Homo sapiens: one gene and its partner. The protein of the gene in region 2 purifies or fractionates together with the protein of the main gene of each other region. This does not show direct contact. Each region holds a gene or a part of one and is shown on either strand. Other genes may lie near its edges.

Region 1 (3,817 bases), on a different chromosome or scaffold from region 2:
ATTTTAGACCAAAAAATCCTGACTTCTTTGGGAGAAGATGGTTGCACTGCGCAGCACGGATACCGAAGGTGATAAGTCAATGCAGCCTGTGTTCAATAACTGTGTTTGAGCACCTACTGTGTGCAAGACACCGCACACTGTGGGGTGGGCAGAGATGCCTGAGACAGATCAGTACTCCACAGACCTTCCCTTATAATGGAGAAAGGAAGACAAAGTGACAAATAGCAGTAACATAAGGGAAAATCTGAATGAAATGTCAGCGGTAACAAAGATTCACTGAGCAGTCACCAGTCATCTTGAGCTTCAAGATTCTTGAAGCAGCCCCACTTCAAGAGCTTTCTGAGGTTTCTTTCGCCCGCATCCGTCCCCACTGCCTCCAGGGCACAATCCTCAGGGAAGCTGAGGCAAAATCACCACCACCCTTCCACCCCACTTCTGCATCACTCTCCCCTTTCCCTTACCCCTTCTTTCCCATCCCAGACATGGACTCCACAAAAAAAGACTCCAACCCCACATCATCATACTGTTCAAAGGATGGGCCCAAAAAGCCTAAAATATTTACTTTCTGGTATTTTATAGAAAAAGTTTGCCAATCCCTGCTCTAGAGCCCTGAAAAATCTGAGCTTCAGTTTTCCCACTAGTAACATGAAGATGATTATAGTACCCACTTCATGGAGTTGCCATAAAAGTTAAATGTGATGTTGCATGAAAAATTAAGAAAAATATTAGCAGGCAGCACAACTATTATTAATTAGAAATGCTGATCTTGAATAGAAAAGCCTCGCTTTGTTCTTCAGACACACCCAACTCCCTGGTCAGCCAATTCTTATCAAATGCACCAAGTGTTAATTGATTGATTCAAGCAATCTACCTGCCTCAGCCTCCAGAGTGTTGGGATTACAACTGTGAGCCACGGTGCCTAGACAAATAAATAAAACTATGACAAAAAATTACTTAAAGGCATTTAGATCATTTAAAAGTTAAAATGATCAACATTTACATCCTGGGATTCATGCTATTCTACCAACTCAAAAATAAAATGATAATCTTTCTCTCCTTTTTTTATTAAGGAAAATAAGATGAAGTCTGGTTTGATCATATCATTTTTAGTAGAAATCAACATTACAGCTACTATAATAGCAGAGCAGAGGGAGGGACTAAACTTCATCTGGAATAGAAAAATAGGGAAAAGTACTTAAAGGAATAAAGAAAATAAAGATGGAGGGTGTCGTCTATTCAGCACACCACAGAACCGAGAGCTGTTCTCCCACGGCCACGCAGTTCTCAATGTCAGCACACGGTGGGGACCCCCATTTGTGGCTACCAGGTTCCACAAGACCAGTCAGAAAGCAGCAGTAACACCACCCTCATGGGGCCGGTCAGTGTGTAAGAGTTAACTGTAAGGAATATCAACCACCCACCCTACAATAGAGACATGCCTTCTTTTACTCCCCCTTACACTATTCCCTTTCATCTAAACGAACTATTTAGGGATGGATTACTAAAGGGCATTACCAAAGGGTAATGAAAGCTACATGTGCAAAAGTCCTGAAGGTGGGAAGAGAGGAGCAAAGCTCTGACAAACACTGAGAGACAAGAATGAGTGAATACCAGAGCCAGCCTACAGGAGGTTCTCATTCTGCAGAATGAAATGTGACACCAGCTCTCCCCAGGCAGCCACCAGTTGCCTGGGTAGCCTTCAAACAAAAGGAGGGGCATTTGTCTCCACTGCCTCTTTCCTCTCACTTCTTGAATCCCAAAGATAGCTTTGGAGGACAGAACCTCTGACCTCTTCTTTAAAGCAGTCACCTAGTGCCCTTGAAAAAGTCCACAAGGCATTATTTTTTCATGCAAGCCTCAAATTAATCAGCTTAGGCCATCAGATGCACAAAGACCAACAACAAACATACGGCAGTGCTAGGGAAGTGTTCTGTGTTGTCCCCATTACCAAGCCCAGCAATGACTCTCCAAGCTTTGCTGAAACATAAGCTGGGAACTGCCAGCATGTCCAAGTAGCAGCCCCCAGAGTCTGCTATTCCCGCCACAGTGTGCATGATCTCGGCCACCCACGCAGTGAGGGAGGCAGCCTGGCCCTGAGCCTCACTCCCTGGGGTGCTGACAGGCCGGCAGCTGCTCTCTCTTGAACACAACAGCAGGAAGCGGCAGCTCCACGGGCAGCTGCTCTCTGTATGGCTGCCACTCCTGAGAACCACCCTCTCCGCACCGAGATTTTCTTAATGTCAGATTTCTTCATAAAATTAGAGTCATGAAAAATAACTTCTTTGACAGGAAACATATCCTAAACAAGCTTCCAGGAGCATGAGGGAGAGACTAAATTGCTCTTTTGAACAGCTGAAAGCATCACTGCCAACAAAAGCAAAAATGAAGATTAGGACTGCATCCGAAAGCTAGCCCTGAAAGGAAGCTTACCTTTTCCAGGTGTGCACAGGGTAGTGTGGCCCAGGCCAGCCCATTGTTGGGGAAGACGGGAGATCACAAACCCAAACAGAGAAAGCGTGGTGAGCAGGCCCAGACACCTCTCATTAAACCATCACCCCTTCTCCAACCCACATTCCCATCACTTTCATCCCTTCTTTGGACTATCCAATCTTTCCTGCTCCAACCCAGGTTCCCACACCACTCCTGGGCACTCTCTTTTCCTCCCCGCTCCCCTTTTTTTGAGACAAGGTCTTACTCTATTGCCCAGGTAGGAATGCGATGGTATGATCACAGTTCACTGCAGCATTGACCTCCCTGGCTGAAACGATCCTCCTGCCCCAGCCTCCCAAAGTGCTGAGATTACATGCATGAGCCACCACACCTGGCCTCTTTTCCTTCTTTTATTTTGAGGCGAGTCTTGCTCTGTCACCCAGGCTGGAGTGCAGTGGTGCAATCTCTGCTCACTGCCACCTCTGCCTCCTGAGTTCAAGTGATTCTCCCGCCTCAGCCTCCCAAGAAACTGGGACTCCAGGCACATGCCACCAGATCCAGCTAATTTTTGTATTTTTGGTGTAGACAGGGTTTTGCCATGCTGGCCAGGCTGGTCTACAAACTCCTGACCTCAGGTGATCTGCCTGCCTGGGCCTTCTAAAGTGCTGGGATTATAGGTGTAGTCACCGTGCCCAGTCCTCTCTACCTTCTTAAAAATGGATCAAGCAATTCTCTCCACCTCCCTGAATTTGAGGAGATGTACTCAGACATAGAACTTCTCAAAGAGTGAATAAATGTCTTTGTGTCAATATCCCTGGTGGATTACGATGGTATGCATGTTAAGGGGGCTGCTTCTTTGGAGTTAGACACTTTTTTTCCATGTTAAGGGGTAAACATCAGCAGATGAGTTTTACAAGTGACCACCAACCCAGGCACAGGACTAGCACATTAAGAAGAAATCCAAAAGGTGCCAGAAACCCTGAAAAATGAGCATGCCCCCACACAAACATGCACACAACTGACAGCACAGCTACTAAGGCATTCCAAGAAACTGCCAGCCAGTGCCACAAATCCAAAGACCTATGCTGACCAGTTTGTACAGGGGAAGACCTAATGGCCAGTCAGATGATCAAAGTTCCCAATTGCAATGACTCTCTCACCTTCCTCTTCAATCCTCAAACTCCAAAAGTAGGCATGCCACCCAGGACCACCAACCTCTGATCTGGCCCAGGCCAGAAAGGTCTTTTCAGTTACCTGTTCTTATCCTTCTTCCTCTTACTTCCAGGAATGACTGTCCCCCGCACAACATAGAGAAGTCACCCTTGTGACTCATAACGCTGTCTTTCCTCCAGCAAGGAGACTTGAGAAACCAAAGATAAAGCTCAGA
Region 2 (4,391 bases):
AGGGCTCCCAGGCACTGGGCCTCCTTCCCAAAGAACAATCATCAGGACATCCCAGAGACCACTGTCCAGGAGAAACGGGGTGACAAGCCCTCTTTGAGCTCGGGAGCATTTTAATCAGTGCTCAAGAGGAAGAGAAAAGAAACAAAAAGTGCAACCAGCCAGAAAAACAACCAAGCAGCTACCCACCCAACCACCCATCCACCCACCCACTGACCCAACCAACCACTCCCCCACCCAACCACCTATCCATCCACCCACCGACCCAACCAACCAACCAACCAACCACCCACACAACCACCCATCCACCCAACCCACTGACCCAACCAACCAAACCAAGCAACCACCCACCCAACCACCCATCCACCCACCCACTGACCCAACCAACCTAGCAACCACTCACCCAACCACCCATCCATCCACCCACTGACCCAGCCAACCAACCAACCAACCAACCACCCTCCCAACCACCCATCCACCCACCCACTGACCCAACCAACCAACCAAGCAACCACCCACCCAACGACCCACCCACCCACCCACTGACCCAACCAACCAACCAAGCAACCACCCACCACCCACCCACCCACTGACCCAACCAACCAACCAAGCAACCACCCACCTACCCAACCAACCCCCACTTACCCAATCAACCAACCAAGCAACCATCCACTCACCCAACCAACCACCCACCCACCCAAGCAACCAATCAACGAACCAAGCAACCACCCACCTACCCAACCAACTACCCCCCACCCACCCAAGCAAGCGAGCAAGCGAGCAAGCAACCAAGTAACCATCTACTCACTCAACCAAGCAACCACCCACCTACCCAACCAACCAATCAACCAACCAAGCAACCACCCACCTACCCAACCAACCAATCAACCAACCAAGGAACCACCCACCTACCCAATCAACGAACCCCCCACCCAACCAGCCAAGCAACCAAGTAACCATCCACTCACCTAACCAATCAACCAATCAACCAATCAGGCAACCACCCACCTACCCAACTAACTAACCCGTAACCACCCAACCAACCAAGCAAGCAACCACCTGCTCACCCAACCAACCAATCACCAAACAAGCAACCACCCACCCACCCACTCAACCAACCAACTACCCAACCAAGCAACCACTCACCCAACCAACCATTCAACCGACCGACCGACCGACCGACCGACCCACCGACCCGACCGACCAACCAACCAACCAAGCAACCATCCAACCATTCAAGAGTGTGTTCGGGGGGATTTTCGCTCGGGGCTGACGCGGTTCTCTGGCCGCTGTGCCGTGCTGGGCCACTAGGTGGCAGCGGAGGCCGCCCGGAGCGACAGCCGGCGGTGCGGAGGCGGGCCCGGCGCGGGCAGGCAGGAGGCTTAAAGCCCCGCAGAGCCGCAGCCGCCTAGCTGGGGGAGAGGCCCGTCCGGGGCTGGCTCTGAGCGCCGCACGGCCGTCGGATCCCGGGGACGCCGGGGGCCCGGGCTGAGCGCCGCGGCCCGCGAGGAGGAGCACCGGTAAATAGCCACAACTTTCTATCTCCTTGAGATCCTGAGAATAAATGCAAAATCGCGCTTCCGCTGCATGTGGAAGTGAGCGGGGCGGCAGCTAGCTTGCCCCGTGAGTTTTTAACACAGCTCGATATGATGTTTAGTATAATTGCATAATTTACCGATATATCTGAGCTGGAACTCAGCTGTAACAAATGATTGTAGTTCAATAAATGCTTAGATTACCAATTTTTTCCTTTTTTATTTTTATAGATTTAGGGGGTACAGGTGCTGTTTTGTTATATGGATGTATTGCATAGTGGTGGAGACTGGGCTTTTAGTGTAGCCATCACCCCTATAGTGTACATTGTACCTATTAAGTAATTTGTTGTCCCTCACCCCCTCCCTCCCTCCCAAAGTGATTACAAATATTAATGATGACAGTGATGACAGAAATTCTCTCCAGATGTGATCTGAGTTTGGAGGGCAAAGGGATTTTTGAAAATGAATCATAAGAGAGAAATTTTGCAACAAAGGAGTGTGGTACATTTAAATTGCTGTTTTTTTTTTTAAATACTGTGCTCACGCGGACCTAATAAACTATCAAGCAGACCTCATGGAATTCCACATAATGCAGAAGCGAGGGAAAAATAGGTATTGAGGGAAAAGCAGCACTGTTTTCCTCAATTTTAACACGTATGTGCAGCCTACACTTACAAACTTAAGACAGTAGCTTTTAACATGTGACTTTGCTCAGGGTAACAGACCATTCTGGTTATAGCCTTACTTACAGCTGTGGAGGCTGAATCCTGATGGGTCTAAGAAGTGTCAGGACAAGTGTTAGGGATGCACCTGTCTGTCTGTCTTAAGGGAATACGGGTCTGGGCAGTCTTAAATCGGAGCTCCCTTGAGGAGAATGTCGTGCAGTAGCCTTAGGAATGTGAACATTGGGAGACTGGCTGGGATTTTGTAGGTTATGAGTTGGGGACACTTATGATAGTGAACTTGAGCCCAGGAGAGAAGCCATAAAAAGTGAAACTGTCCTGGGCACTTGGAGGTGAGTGTCTCTCTAGTAAGATGCATGTGAAAGGCTGGGAGCTGAAAGCAAGGAGAGCAGAAGAGGCTGGTGAAGATTCTAATCTGCGTGTCCAGGGGCACTCTTCCAGGTCTCAGGAACGCAGGTCAGAATGTGCAAGCCAGCTGCCGGGCACGTGGCTCACCCCTGTAGTACCAGCACTTTGGGAGGCTGAGAGAGAAGATCGCTTGTGGCCAGGAGTTTGAGACCAGACTGGGCAACATAGGGAGACCCTGTCTCTTAAAAAAAAAAAAAAAAAAGGACTGAGTGAGCCGAGCCCAGTCCTCTGATGCACTGTGTCATTCATCCCCTTTCTTAGGCTGTGTTGGTTCTAGGCTAGCTGCTGTCTTTCTTTGGTAGGCTGCTAACCTCTTTGGATTGTGAATTTAAAACATGTTTTACAGTAAATTTGCTGCCAAGACAAGAGGTGTATTTCTCCAGCAATGAATTCCTCATTTCACCTGCATTTCTTGGATCTCAACCTGAATGCCACAGAGGGCAACCTTTCAGGACCCAATGTCAAAAACAAGTCTTCACCATGTGAAGACATGGGCATTGCTGTGGAGGTGTTTCTCACTCTGGGTGTCATCAGCCTCTTGGAGAACATCTTGGTCATAGGGGCCATAGTGAAGAACAAAAACCTGCACTCCCCCATGTACTTCTTCGTGTGCAGCCTGGCAGTGGCGGACATGCTGGTGAGCATGTCCAGTGCCTGGGAGACCATCACCATCTACCTACTCAACAACAAGCACCTAGTGATAGCAGACGCCTTTGTGCGCCACATTGACAATGTGTTTGACTCCATGATCTGCATTTCCGTGGTGGCATCCATGTGCAGCTTACTGGCCATTGCAGTGGATAGGTACGTCACCATCTTCTACGCCCTGCGCTACCACCACATCATGACGGCGAGGCGCTCAGGGGCCATCATCGCCGGCATCTGGGCTTTCTGCACGGGCTGCGGCATTGTCTTCATCCTGTACTCAGAATCCACCTACGTCATCCTGTGCCTCATCTCCATGTTCTTCGCTATGCTGTTCCTCCTGGTGTCTCTGTACATACACATGTTCCTCCTGGCGCGGACTCACGTCAAGCGGATCGCGGCTCTGCCCGGGGCCAGCTCTGCGCGGCAGAGGACCAGCATGCAGGGCGCGGTCACCGTCACCATGCTGCTGGGCGTGTTTACCGTGTGCTGGGCCCCGTTCTTCCTTCATCTCACTTTAATGCTTTCTTGCCCTCAGAACCTCTACTGCTCTCGCTTCATGTCTCACTTCAATATGTACCTCATACTCATCATGTGTAATTCCGTGATGGACCCTCTCATATATGCCTTCCGCAGCCAAGAGATGCGGAAGACCTTTAAGGAGATTATTTGCTGCCGTGGTTTCAGGATCGCCTGCAGCTTTCCCAGAAGGGATTAAGCACAAAGTGCTCCTCTCTGTGGCTCTGTTCTCCTTTGTTTGCTCACCTATGACAAAGCGACAGCCAAGGGGTAGGCGGGAGTGCTAGCATCCCATTTTTCTCTTTACCAGCTCAGACATGGGCCTAAGAGGCTCTCTCTGTTCAGTTCCTGGTGATTATGTCCAACATGCAAGGGTTGCTTATCCACTCTGGGGACAGTCATGACAATTTCTTACTGTCCTTTTGTGTCCTATGGTTTCTACTGCTCCCACCCATTTCTGGGGGCCCCATCCACCCTCCACCTAGCAGGCATGTGCTCGGGGAATGCACAGCACCCTCAGTGCAAGCCAGACATGATGAAACACGTATTGTGACGCGAAGAAAACCGTGATATCGACGCCAGGTGGGATTGCTTCTTCTCCCCA

Evidence for each region.
Region 1: the proteins of MC5R (region 2) and MRAP2 purify together in Homo sapiens (co-immunoprecipitation; one study listed by IntAct). This does not show direct contact.

The regions. Positions count from the first base shown.
Region 1 is NC_000006.12:84,050,586-84,054,402, reverse strand, and holds part of MRAP2 (melanocortin-2 receptor accessory protein 2), read right to left. Parts: exon of another isoform or gene 3,685-3,817; intron 1-3,684. UniProt on the Homo sapiens protein: Modulator of melanocortin receptor 4 (MC4R), a receptor involved in energy homeostasis. Plays a central role in the control of energy homeostasis and body weight regulation by increasing ligand-sensitivity of MC4R and MC4R-mediated generation of cAMP.
Region 2 is NC_000018.10:13,822,758-13,827,148, forward strand, and holds the start of MC5R (melanocortin receptor 5), read left to right. Parts: upstream 1-1,391; 5' UTR 1,392-1,517; intron 1,518-2,969; 5' UTR 2,970-3,008; coding exon 3,009-3,986; 3' UTR 3,987-4,391. UniProt on the Homo sapiens protein: Receptor for MSH (alpha, beta and gamma) and ACTH. The activity of this receptor is mediated by G proteins which activate adenylate cyclase. This receptor is a possible mediator of the immunomodulation properties of melanocortins.